2 linked regions of the Homo sapiens genome follow. The protein of the gene in region 1 interacts with the protein of each later gene in a pairwise test. Each region holds a gene or a part of one and is shown on either strand. Other genes may lie near its edges.

Region 1 (4,827 bases):
AGCCACAATAATATCACAAATTCACCCTGAACGATTTTGTCACCCATTAAAAATGACATGTTTAATGCATGTTCTTGTCTGTAAAGTTGAAGCAATGAATAAAAAGTATATAATATTACTAAAGCCATAGATAAGAACTCACAAAAATGAAATAGAGAATTTTTATGTAAATACTTAATGTTCTCTTTTGCTTTCATGAATTTGCAGCTCCTCAGTGGGTAGTGCACTTCCACGAAGACGCTGCTGTGCATATATTACCATTGGAATGATATGTATTTTCATTGGAGTTGGGTTAACTGTGAGTGTTACACTTTGATGTTAGAATTCTGTCCTCTCAACTTTATCAGTAGTCAATCATGAGGCCTGGGACAACCTTCAGGGATTCCTGAAGAGGCTGCCTCCTTGGCATGCCAGCACTAGAAGCTTCTGAATGATTATGAGCAATCAGAAACCCAATCCATGGACCTCTTTTTGATTGAACTCGCCCATCCAAGTGAAACGGTGTCTTTTTACCTCCAAAAGTCCTTACTGTTGGGGATTTTATCATCTATTTAGCAAAAGCCCATTTAAAAAAAAATCAGTGCCAGAACTAATTTTTATGGCTATGGGGTCTCTTATTATTCAAAGCAATATTCATTCAGCTACAGAGATCTAAAAAAACCACTCTTCTCTTTATCCAAATCAAGCAGAGATTTATTACCAATATGAGGATGGCTTGTTTTTAGAGAAGACTGGAGCTAAGCAGTTAGCATGGGGATTATGCCAGAAGAGGAAGATAATCTCTTTGGCTGCCATTTCCATGCTCCTTTGTTTGTCAGTACAACTAGTCCCTTATTATTAGCAATGTCCTATTGTGTCCCATGATAGTAAGAAGTTACATGGATTAAATTCCTTGTAGAGATAATATAGTTTAGTGTGCTTTTTTGTTTACTTCATAACATTTATAGTTACTACAAGTAGCAGTATGGTCTATCAGTTGCAGTCAACAGATACACCTACTCTTATAAGGACTTTGTGTATTCGGTCTGGGGGTATATTTCATAACAATCACATGTAAGCTGATACAAGTTCCCTAAGCAGATATTTTTTAAAGTTTCTAATATTTTGTTTTTATATTGCTTTTTATTTTAGGTTGGCACCCCAGATTTTGCAAGGCGATTTCGAGCAACCTATGTTTCTTGGGCAATTGCTTATCTCCTAGGATTGATCTGCCTTATCCGAGCTTGTTATTGGGGAGCCATAAGAGTCAGTTATCCAGAACACAGTTTTGCATAAGCTTGTTTATGATTCAGTAATGCAGGTGAGAGTGTCTAGCAGTTCTTGGTAAGCTACTCTGGACATCTTTAAATTATTTATCCTAATGGATTCCATTCTGGTTTATGTATAATCGTTTCAAGACTTTGGGAGTCTTTTATGAACAAATGCTCATTGCACTATATTATATGCAAATTGTTTTGCTGCTAGGTTTTCAAAATTTGAATAATAAAGCCTTTTCATGTTCTTTTACATCTCTTATAGATATTTTTGGATTTGTTACCAAACATTACATTTACTCTCACCCTTTTATTATTTTTAAATAAGTTATTTCATTACTTGCTGATACATGAGTATTCCTAAGTGTTTATAAATATTTCTATAATAGTTTCACATTTATATTTACATTTTAATTAAACAGTATCAAAATTGCTTGCTTAAAACCTAAGCAATATGCATTTTGCTTGAACTGCTTACTGTAACTTTAACCTAAGATTATAGTGACCTTATTCAGGAAAAAAAAAAAAATTTAGTGTAACTTCAAAGACTTGACATTCTTGTCAGAGGAAAAAAAATTTCTAGATACTGTTTGCTTGTTTTTTGTTGTTTGTAGAAAGATAAAATATTTTGGTAGTAATTTAAAATACAAGAACGAATATTTATTTGTCCACAGTTGGAGATGTTGGATAAATGTCTTTTCTCAAAGATCACAGGACTTTTGTCTTTCATTTTTGCCTTTTTATTTACCATTTATAAAAGATCTGGTCTGGATTATGGAATTTAATGTTTATCAGCTCTATGTATTCCTTTATAGAGGCTTGAGGAAGTATTTCACATAACATGTTTTATAATACTTAACCATTTATCCAAAGATATATTTACATTGGGTTGTGCCCCTTTCCCTTAGATCATGGTAAATTTTTCTTATTGAGGTAATTATGTACTACTTATATTTGAAGGAAGCTTATGACATTTTACAGTAGCTAAAATGTTGAGATTAGAGGTACTTTTACTATTCTTCTCAAAGGTAACTGATCAGATAATTACCCAAATTATTCAAGAAAATAGATCAGAAATAAAGAACAACATAATTTTCTAAGAATTCATTGAAATTTATGGAATCAGCTCTCGCACTGCCCATCTTTGCAGTTTTGAAAAAGAAATTGCTTAATCACAAATGTTCTACAGTCTTTAAATGTAGTAGAATTAGACAGTGAGATCATCTGAGTAAATTGATTGGTGATTCCAGAGATAAGACTAATATTTTAAATTATTTATGATACTGATTAGTATAAAAACGTACTCATCACAGAATTTGAAGCAAAATACATGTACACTTCAAAGAGTAAATGACAAATGTATAAATGCTGTAGCTCAGGATTATATGTACCTTTAAAAATACACTAATAAAGATTATTGTTCAAAAATTACCTTGTTTTATTCCATTAAAAATAATGTCACTTCCAGAGTTGCCTTGAAATCTTGCTGTAAAGTTTTCATGTTTAGGAATGTACCTGTTTCTTTATATAATATTCATTTATGTTTTTTGTACTATTTTCAAATGGTTTTATTTTTAAAATATAGTTTTTAAATCCATTTGTAATACACTTGATGTTAGGTATAAAATAATCTTACTTCTTTTCCTAATGGTTAACTAGTTGTAACAGCATTGTATACTGAATAATCCATTCTTTCCCTCATTGATTGGAAAGCTCACATTAAATTATATGCTATGTCATATTCCTTCTGGAATAATAACTTTATGAGAGCAAGAACCCTGGTAGTCTTGTTCACAGCTTTATCCCCACTTAGAACAGTTCTTAGTGTACATGTGCTCAATTTACGTGAATGAATATGCATGAATGAATAAATGGTTGAATGAATTGCTATTTTAAATTCTTATATACACTTGAATATGTACTTTATATTTTGTACCAGAATGTATAGGTAAGTATTTGTATAACCTTGGGTTAAGAAAAAAACGTTCTAAGTAGAACTTAAAAGAAGAAATTATATAGGAAAGGATTGATACAATGAAACAACAACAACAAAATCCCCAAAATACTTCTGTATGATAAAAACCCTTAAGCAAAGCCAAAAGACAAACTGGTGAAGCTATTTTCAAAATAGGAGAAAGACTGTAATATCAGAAGGGACTAACGGTATGAAAAAGCAATTCACAAAATGACTACAATAGGTCATAAACTGTTTTTCGATTTTTCTTTTTTTTTAGACAGGGTCTCACTCTGTCACTTAGTCTGGAGTGCAGTGGTGTGATCTCGGCTCACTGCAGCTTCCACTCCCCTGGCTCAAGCCATCCTCCCACCTCAGCCTTCCAAGTAGCTGGGATCACAGCATGCGCCACTATGCTGGGCTTTTTTTTTTTTTTTTTTTTTTGGATTTTTTGTAGAGATGGGGTTTCGCTATGTTGCCTAGGCTGGTCTGGAACTCCTAAGCTCAAGCGATATGCCCAGCTCGCCCCCCGAAAGTGCTGGGATTACAGGTGTGAGTCACCGCACCCAGATCCCAATTTTCTAATATTTGAAGAATGTAAGTTAAAACAAAGAGATACTATTTTTCACTTACCATATTAACAAAGAAGTAGAAATTACAATAATACCCCTGTAATGCTGAGGACATTGGAAACACACACACACACACGCACACACACACACCACATATTCTTTGATCTAGTAATTCTCTAAGAATTTATCCTAAAGGTATTGTCAATTTTCTAATAAAGAGTAAAAATATAGTCCAATAATCCAATAACATGAGATTGATGAAATAAATTATGGCACACCTATACAATGAAATAGCAGACAATCAAGAATATGACAAAAAATTTCATCTATTGAATTGGAAATGGCTCGCAAATTGTGTGATACATAGAATATGATCCACATTTTAGAAAATGTATTTTATGTGTACATACTGAAAAAAACTAAGGAAAATAAACCAAAAATATTAGGAGTGGTTATCTCTGGGTGAAGAGAGAGAAATTATTTTTACTTTATTTTTGAACTAGATTGTTGGAAAGTAGGTTTTACTCTTGATGAATAGATAATAGTAGTATATGATGATTACATCAATATTTGTTAATTTTCATTTTGATTCTTGAAAAGTTTTAAAATGAGTTTATTAAAATCCAAACCAATGACGGTCATTGATAAAACCTTAAGCTTTAAAGTCAGAGAATATATATTTAAGCTTAGCCCTATGTGAGTTACCTAAAATTTTTAATTAATTAAATTCAAATTTATGAAACTTTATACTCAGTGTTGTCTTTTGTTATTTTGTTTTGTTTTGCTTTTTTAAGTAGAGCATGTCTTCCAGTGCCTAGGGAGCATAGAAAATAACTGGGAAGAGGTTATTTGAAAGAATACACCATAGCCATGAATCAGAAAAGGAATGATGTGTTTGTCCCTTGCTGTTCAAAGTAGCAAAAATTGCCTTAGTTCTTCTTAGAAAAGAGAAAAATGGCACCATGACCAGGTATTCTTGAACAAGTCATTTGTGAGTACATATATGTTATTTTAGAAGAAAAAAGGAAACTTGATATGTGCCAAGTAG
Region 2 (9,269 bases), on another chromosome or scaffold:
TTCCATTATTTAAAAGCCCCCCAGCTTAGTGTATTTCGTTATAGTCGCTGAAATGGAGAAAGCCCCCAAAGCAGCTCCCCTCGCCCTGCTCTCAGGACCCAGGTTCAGGAGCAGAGGCCGCAGGAGCAGAGCTGCTACACCTGCCCTCATGGCAAAGAGCTTGGGAACATCTCAGAAAAGGGAAAGTAGCAAGTGGTCTTGAAGGATGAGGAACTAAGAGGAGTTTAGGAAAAGAAGCACTTTCTGCCCTTGCCATCCTTGAGGGAGGCTGAAAAGGCCTCTGCCCATGCTGGTAGAGATTATCCAAACCAAAAATCAAATACAAAAGCGGGACAGGCATAAAACAAGGGACTTCACACGCAAGGGCAAAGGGAAAACAGAGAGGGAGGATGAAGAGGTAGAAAGAAGACAAGAGCCGAATCAGACAACCTGAATTTGAGTCACAGCTCCACCATTTCCAGGCCAAAGTCTCTGGGCAAAGCACTCTTTTTACCTCAGGTTATTCATCTGTAAAATGGGAACAGCTAAGTACCTTTACTTAGAAGTTGTAGAAATAGACAAATTATTTGCTGGACCAGAGTAATACTTCTTGTGTGTAGTGTTACCGGGCACTGCTGGAATCTGGCTGCTCTGAACCCTTAAGAACTGCCTGCTCCTGTCACACCTACGGTAAGGATGAAATGAGATCACACATGTGCAAGTATGGAGGGTAAACAGATCACTGAACATACAGAATGCCCTGCAGAAGTCAGCAGGCAGCATAAATAAAACAAAGGGGCCGGGCGTGGTGGCTCACACTTGTAATCCTAACACTTTGGAAGACCAAGGTACAAGAATCACTTAAACCCAAGAGTTCAAGACCAGCCTGAGGAACAAAGTAAGACCCTGTCTCTACAAAAAAAATTCAAAAATTAGCCAGGCATGGTGCTACATGCCTGTAGTCCCAGCTACTCGGGAGGCTGAGCTGTGAGGATCACTTGAGCCCAGGAAGTCGAGGATGCAGTGAGCTGTGATCATGCCACTGCACTCCAGCCTGGGAGACACAGTGAGACCTTGTCTCAAAAAAAAAAAAAAAAAGGGATCTTGAATAACTGGGGGACATTCACACAGCAGAAAGAAAGAGCCTGTCCAGGACATCTAATCCTGAGAAAACAACTGCCCTGGCTGCTGCAGGGGTAGGAAGGCAGGACCCTGGGGGCCCTGAGTCAAATTCCTCAAGATAAACTCCATTGTCTTCTTCCAGGGCACAGACCCTAGAACTCACTCAACACCAGAACACACAGTACTGCCCCCTTACCCTGCTCCCATCTGACAGCAGGCAGGAGGGCCCTTCCTCAGGAGCACAGCAGCTCCCAGGTCAACCTAGCTACTCTAGGTTTCCACCATAATTGTATGTGGCTCAGCTCTCAGCGCTGCTGATCTGAGCCAGGTCTCTAAGCTGTGCTGTCAAGTCCACCCTTCTCCAAAGCTGCCTTCCTTGACCGCTCTCCCCCGACCCTCAGTAAAATAAGGACTGGCTGGGGAGAGGTGAACTCAGGGCTCTATCACGTCCAGAGAAACAATGTTTGCTTCAACTTGCTTCCAGCTGGATAAGAAAGACCAAGACAGGATCCTAGGAACCCACAGCGTGGGTCAGGGCCTCCCACATTAACCGCACCCACTACTTACTATGAACCAACCAGCACTGTGCTAGCCCTTCGTAAGTACTACTGTCTCATTTGACATGAGACCTGTAACAACCCTATGAGGTAAGAATGATGATCCCCCTTTTACAGAAGGGGAAACTGAGGCACGGGGTGTGAAATAATTTGCTCAAGGACACCTGGCTGAGCTGGGATTTGCAGCAGGCAGTGAGACTCTACTCTGTTCCTCACCATCATGCTACACTGCCTTCTGAAGTTCTGTCAGGATTATGGTTCTCTACAGTCCTGGGATGGCATTTCCCAAACTGAGTTCCTTGTCTTCCCACAACTGAATGTCCAATCAGGATGGAGGGACAAGAAGGAACCCACACCCACTCCCTCAGCAGTCCTGCCGGGCATCTGCTAGCTCCCCGGGGTCCCGCGGACACACCTTCACTCCCTGCTCTTGTCACAAGTCAGTACCCACAGTTCTGAGACTCTGCCCCTGTGGCTGGGTGTTCCCCACTAGAGTCCCAGAAGTCCACCCCCACTCCCCCACCAGCCCAGCCCTGTCCCCTGGCCGCACCGAAGTTGTTGGTGGGGTAGCGCTTGCGGAGCCGCTCCGTGAGCCGAGACACCTTGCTGCGCAGCACCTCATTCTTGCTCAGGAACCCGTTGTCCTGCAGGGCCAGCTCATCCTCTGCTGGGCACGGGGCGCCCTCATCATCCTCCTGTGGGAACAGCTCCTTCCAGTCCTGCCCACCTCTTGCAAGGCTGCAGGACCCGTGTGCAGAGGCATCCTGCGCGGCAGCCCCCACGAGGTGTGGCAGCAGCCGGTTCAGCCACCCTCCCCAGCCCAGCCCCTGCCCACCCACCAAGGCTTCCACTTACCAGCACCACCAAGTGGGTCTCCTGCCTCCCAAGGTGCGGGGAAGAGGAGAGAAAACAGAAAGAAAAAGATAGCAAGAAGAAAGAAGCTACCTGGAGGGGCCCCCAAGCAGAAGGAAGCATGGAAGCGCTGCTCTGAGCTCTGCGCACTTCCCAAATGGTGACATTGACAGACGCCCCCCACAAGAGGATCCCAGCATCAAACAGCCTTGGAGAAAGCTAGGTACTACAGTTTCTCAAACTGGGTGAAAATAATTTAGTAGGTCTTTATTTGAATAGAACAGAAAAGGAAAGAAAATATCCCTTACAACGTATTTTCCGGAAACTTTTGTTTCACTTAAGTTTTACATATTTTATAGACCTAAGTGTGACCTGGGTCAAGATGCAAAATGTGTTCCTTACTATGGGTCATGAACAAAAATGCTTGAAAACCCCTGCTCTACATATTCCCTCCACCAAGATTCACGGTCTACAATCATATATCAAAGTTTTGGAGCAATCTTTTAGCCATCAGAAAGTCAAATGCCTGCATGGCCTGGGCTGATGTATGATTGAGGTGAGTTGGGGTAAATCACAGGCCTGGTGGAAATCCACGAGGTGTTTTTCTTATATCTCAATTTCCCACTTTACAAAGAGAAATAAATAAAGAGAAATGATATCCTACTCTAAGAAAAACAAAAACGCAAATGTGACAAATGGCAACTCCCACTTGACCTCAGTGACAAAATACAGCAGGGGGTGTTGAGGACCACCTGTAGCCACAGCATGTGACCTGCGTAAAGGGGACAGCAGCTCCTTAGCTACACCTACTGCTGCAGACTCAGGACTACCAGAGAAACTGGAAACCTGCAGTTCTAATAAAAATCTCTCCATATTTAAACATTGGCTCAAAAAATTATTTTGAAACTTTGCATGCCAAATAAAACACTTCTGCAAACTACCAATTTGAATTACCATCCTAAAATCAAGAAAGCTGTTTAACTTCCTCTGACCTAGCACTTGGCCATGCAACTACTTTCTCCAACCTCCCCTCCCAGCCCCGCAAAGGGACATCTTACGGAACTCACTCTGCAGAAGAGCGGAGACCCAGGGCAGTAGCCTCCTCAAAAGCTGCCTTTCCTATATCAAAGGCACCAAGCCCACGGTCTCCAGCAAAGGCCAGAAATCGTCCAGCTCCCCTAGCAGGGCATTACCCGGAGACTTCCAGAGCCACTCTTGCCCTGGGCACCCAGGACAGCTGGCTCAACCAGAAACAGGAGTGGGGAGGGGTTCAGTGGCACTCTTTCAACCAGTGAGTTCTAGCTCACAGCAAGTTTTAGCTTCTCACTTGGACATTAAAAAACAAAAACAAAAAACAGCTCCAGGACCACCCAATTTCTGGCCTGCTGAGTAGAGGATGCTGGGGAAGGGCCACCCACCTCAATCGCATCTTTAAACTCTTCATCTGGCTCAGCCTCCTCAGCCTCCTCCACGCTGCCCGGTGTGAGGTCCTGGGAAGAGAGACTCTATGACAGAAGGAGAAGGATGGCAGCGCTGCTCCCTAAGGCAGAGGACCACCTCCCCAAGCCAGCATCCAGGCTACCCAAAACACCACGAAATGGCACAATGGCAAGAAAGAAGGAACTCACAGGAAGGAGCAACCTCTAGCCTGGCAGGGCGGGGGAGATGGAAACACGAGCACAGCTGGCCCTACAGTGGCCACATCGCACAGTGGTTGAAGGCACGAGCTCTAGAACCACAGGGCTGGGGTCTTAGACCCAGCCCTGCCACTTACCAGCCACTCTGTGCCTCAGCCTTCTCTTCCACAAATGAGAATGATCTCTTTCTCAGAAATAACCAGCCTGGTGCAGTGGCTCACGCCTGTAATCCCAGCACTTTGGGAGGCCGAGGCAGGCACATCACTTGAGCCCAGGAGTTTGAGACCAGCCTGGGCAACATGGCAAAACCTCATCTTTACTAAAAATACAAAAAAATTAGCTGGGCGTGGTGGCACCTGCCTGCAGTCCCAGCTACCCAAGAGGCTGAGGTGGGAGGACTGCCTGAGCCCAGGAGATGGAGGTTGTAGTGAGCTGTGATTGCCCCACTGCCCTCTAGCCTGGGTGACAGAGGGAGGCCTTATCTCAAAAAAAAAGGAAAAAAAAAAAAGAAAAGGAAAGAAAGAACCTGCACTCCATGATGTGAATATCTATCTATAAAGCACTTGGAGCAGCATCTGACACAGGGTAAGCACTCAGTGAAGCATGGAGTAGCTGTTTTTATTACAATTATTATTATTGAACACTTCAGGGGAGTTAAGGCCTGGGAAATAGCAGGAACTACAACAGAGGCCAGCCCAGGAGCCAAAAACAAGCTGATAACAGGGGGGCCCACAAGCGGCCACAGCAGGCTCTGCCCTGACAGTGGCACTTACCTCCGTGGGTGTGAGGGCAGGCGTGCTGTCCATCAGACCATCCTTCCCCCCAACATCTGGTGGTGGAGGACTCTCAAAGGCATGCTCTTCCTGCTTTGGGTTCATCCTCTGCTGCAGAGATGCCCTGTACTCAGACACAACTACCCAGGGAATGGAGAACAAGGTAGGAGGCAAAAATGAGACACCGTGAGTGGCACTTTAGGGGTACCCACTTCTGCAGCTGGCTGGCCTCTCTTCCCTTCACTACAGGAAAGAGTCACCCTCCTAACTCTGAGCGAGTCACCTAACTTAAGCCTCTTAAACAAAACTTAGATACCACCACCTGCCCCAGACAGCTACAGAGATTAAATGTAGTAAATGCTCAATAAATCATGGCTTCTGTAATAAATAACTCTACCACAGGGAGGAAAACAAATACAGCAATCACCCAAACATATGTACAGACTCGGGCCTCTGCGACTCAGTGCCTCTCCAGACTGCCTCAGCGCTTTAGAAGCCAGACAACAGAGGGGTATTCTGGGATCACACAGAGATGTGGTAGCAACTCCAGGTGGCTGCACCCCAGGGGATGGGTGGCAGCTTTGGGAAAAACATCCTTCCCTCATCTTCCAGAAGCCATCATATCATATAAGCAGTGATTCATCTGCCTTGGGAAGGGAGCGAAGGGAGATGGGAGCCCAATGGTAGCAGCCTCCCCTGGTGAGATTCCAGCTTCATCTAACATCTCAGAGATGCAGAGCCCATGAGAGAGGACCCCAGTGTGGTGTTGCACTTGTGGAAGCACAGCAAACTGATGATTAGCTGTAGAGACAGAAGAACTGGGGAGCCTAGCCTAGCCCTCAGAGCCAGCTTGGGCCCCATCTTTCAGGCCCTTCAGGGCTTACCTCGGAAGAACTCCACATTCCCCAGAAAGAGCGTGCTGTTTAAAAGGGTGAGAACCCAGCAGAGTGGCAGCAAATACAGCATGCAGACTGTGCCCAGAAGAGCCCCATAGAACCTGGATGACAGGGAAGAACCACAAGATCAGAAATTCGTAACAGCAGAAGGAGACGGGTTTGGAGCACACCCACAGCAGGGTCCAGGTGAGACACAGCTCTGGGCACATTAATAAACTGACAAGAGCCGCTCATCAAACCAGCGGAAAATGGCGATGAAGACTGAGAACTATCCCAAGTCACCGGTGCAAACACCTGATGCTGGTGAGGCCAAAGTGGTGTCAGCTGGTGGCACATAAACTGGTTCAACCATCATCACTCCTTAAGGTCTAGACTCTGAAGTCTAGAGTAAGACAGACTGGGATTTGAATCCAGCTCTGCCACTTCTCATTCTGAGAAGTCTCTTGGTTCTCTGGGCACAGCTCCCTTCCCGTGTAAGATGGGGACTGAAGTAGCGCCTACCTAATAGAGTTACTATAAGAGTGAGATAATACAGAGGGAGTGTTGAGCAGTGCCTGGCACCAGGTGAACACAACAAACATTAGTTATCACTATTATTCATATTAAAGAGCCTCAAAAACACCCATTCTGTTTGATATGGTAGTTTCATCCTTGAATTTACTCCAAGAAAAATTTTCTAAAACATTAAAGCTAAATCCATAAAAATGTTTACCATGGGGTTAGTAATGAAAAGGGAAATTGACTAAATCTGTAACAGAATGGTTTCACAAATTATATTTGCCATCTATATTAATCTGGTATTATAAATAATTCCAAAAGCTATATAGCAACAAAGAAAATCATCTTTAATATAATGATAAGTGGAAAACAAAAGAAAAATTGAACATACACTATGAAACTATACATCCGTAAAGTAGATGCATGTGACAAATTCTAGCAGGCAAAACAAACAAGAGATTCGGCTGCATGGTGGATTATATGGTGAGTTATTTTTCTATTATTATTTTTACCACACATAAAAGCAAGCATCTAAACAAAAGCAGTACATTAGAGCCCGCAAGCATATGTGCAGATATACACACAAGAGCCCAGGAGGCGAGCTCTTCCCCTGAGGTAAGAGGGGCAGAGGTCCTCTCAAGGCAGCTGGCTTTGCTCGGGCTCAAGCTGCAAATTCCTATAGGGTGGTGGCGGGAGAGGAGGGGTCACTCACTGTGAGGACACGACGGGGTTCTCCCAGTGCAGCACGCGGTAGGCGGCTTCACATGTGCAGCACAGGCGGCTCAGGAAGGCCTCCAGCTGGATCAAGCTACAGACACAGGGGCTTTGGTGAGTGGGCAGGACAGAAGCCCTGGGAAGTGGAGCCTGGGGCCTTGCAGGTACAGTTGGCTAGGGATGGTCAATCTCTTTAAACACACTCACCATGTGCTTAAAGAGAGAGGAGTCGAGAGAGCATGGGAGAAACAGGCCTGGCTAAGCCACCCCAGCTACATTTCAGTCCCCTTTTTGGAGCCTCTTGCTGAGGTGGAAACAGTATAAATGTTCCTGCTTTGGTCTTCTAACTGTTGATGTCAGGCAGGCTACTGAAATTCTCCAGGGCTGTGGCTTCTTTATCTATAAAATGAGGATCAGAGGACCCACCTCACGGGTACACAGCAGCTGTCAGAATAAATGGCATGATATTCTCTACCTGGGATGTGAAACAGACTCACTTGGGGAGTTCTGGTTGTTGTTTTTTTAAACATGGATGAACCACAGAAGCCATGAGCACAATCTGAACCCAGATCTGGGTTTCTGAAGGGAAACCAGGAAACATGGAGATAAGCTGATTCCAGGGCTGGGGCAGGGAAGTATAAGATGAATTTGACCATCCTGTTGTACCATAAAGGAAGCATTCAAAAATGACAGGGACCAATGCAAACAAGAGCCAACTCAAAAGAGCTCCTACTGGCCAAATCTAGGACAATTTGAGATCAAAATAAATAATGATAGTAATAGATTCTAACTCATCAAATAAAATATAAATCTATGAGTTCATACTGATAATAGTAAGAAAGAGCTTCCTTATAGTAGAAAGCCAGCTAAAAAAATGTCGATAGAATAATTAGAAGATCATCTTTGCAACCATCATAGTAATAAACTGATTAAGGCAAGACCCATCAATGGATTTTTAAAGCAGTGGATAAATGTTTGATGAGGAACAAGATATTTACATAGTCTCAAAGTATCTCCCCTCAAATTACTACTAATGAAGAGTAAAATGATAATTTACAGTATGGATGCCTTAACCAAGTGATCAAAGTCAGTATTTCCTGACATCAGGTGCCTCCTGATACGGATGTACTGAACATGACACATCACTTGTCACACTCTAAATCTGATCACAAGGAACCAAACAATCCAAAAATTAGGGAGATTCTACAAAATAATAAGCTTGTACTATTCAAAAATGTCAAGGTCACAAGAAACAAGGACTGAGGAACTGCTCCAGATTAAAGAAGACTAAAGAGACATAAAAAAATTAAACATGATGTATAATCCTGAATTGGATCCCAGATCAGGGAAACTGATACAAAGAACTTTATTAGGACACCCACACTGGCTCACACCTGTAGTCCCAGCACTTTGGGAGGCTGAAGCAGGAGGATTGCTAGAGCCCAGGAATTCAAGGCCAGCCTGGGCAAGACAATGAGACCCTATCTCTACAAAAAAATTGTTTTAATTAGCAGGGTATGGTGCATGTGCCTGTGGTCCCAGCTACTCAGGAGGCTGAGGCAGAAGGATCACTTGAGTCCAGGAGGTTGAGGCTGCAGTGAGCCATGATCATGCCACTGCATTCCAGCCTGGATGACAGAGCAAAACTCCGTCTCAAAAAGTAAAAAAAAAAAAAGAAAAAAGGAAAAAAATTAATAAAAGAAGAAAAAGAACTTTATTAATACAACTGGTAAAATCCGATTACGAATTATACATTAGTTATCAACGTTAAGTTTCCTAATTTTGATTACAGCTCTGTGGATATTTAAGAGAATGTCCTTGTTCTTAGGAAATACACGCTGAAGTATTAAGTCACGTTTGCAACTTACTTTCAAATGGTTTAGGAAAAAGAAAAGAATATGTATATGTAGAGAGATAGACGAAGCCAACATGGCAAAATGTTAATAATTGTTCTATCTGGGTAAAAGGCATTCTTGGTATTATTCCTGTACTTCTTTAAGTTTAAAACTATTTCAGGCTGGGTGCGGTGGCTCATGCCTGCAATCCCAGCACTTTGGGAGGCCAAGGCAGGCAGATCACCTGAGGCTGAAGTTCGAGACCAGCCTGGCCAACATGATGAAACCTCATCTCTACTAAAAATACAAAAATTAGCTGGACATGGTGGCACATGCCTGTAATCCCAGCTACTCTGGAGGCTGAGGCACGAGAATCGCCTGAACACAGGAGGCAGAGGTTGCAGTG

The links. Proteins that work in one complex are often made in the same cells at the same time.
Region 2: the proteins of PIP4P2 (region 1) and ZFYVE27 interact in binary tests that used the Homo sapiens proteins (3 or more experiments, as listed by UniProt).

The regions. Positions count from the first base shown.
Region 1 is NC_000008.11:90,992,125-90,996,951, reverse strand, and holds the end of PIP4P2 (type 2 phosphatidylinositol 4,5-bisphosphate 4-phosphatase), read left to right. Parts: intron 1-207; coding exon 208-298; intron 299-1,131; coding exon 1,132-1,275; 3' UTR 1,276-3,150; downstream 3,151-4,827. UniProt on the Homo sapiens protein: Catalyzes the hydrolysis of phosphatidylinositol-4,5-bisphosphate (PtdIns-4,5-P2) to phosphatidylinositol-4-phosphate (PtdIns-4-P).
Region 2 is NC_000010.11:97,746,122-97,755,390, reverse strand, and holds part of ZFYVE27 (protrudin), read right to left. Parts: intron 7,123-9,269; coding exon 7,027-7,122; intron 5,918-7,026; coding exon 5,805-5,917; intron 5,061-5,804; coding exon 4,921-5,060; intron 4,016-4,920; coding exon of another isoform or gene 4,001-4,015; coding exon 3,929-4,000; intron 2,535-3,928; coding exon 2,514-2,534; intron 2,354-2,513; coding exon 2,209-2,353; intron 665-2,208; coding exon of another isoform or gene 639-664; exon of another isoform or gene 1-638. UniProt on the Homo sapiens protein: Key regulator of RAB11-dependent vesicular trafficking during neurite extension through polarized membrane transport. Promotes axonal elongation and contributes to the establishment of neuronal cell polarity.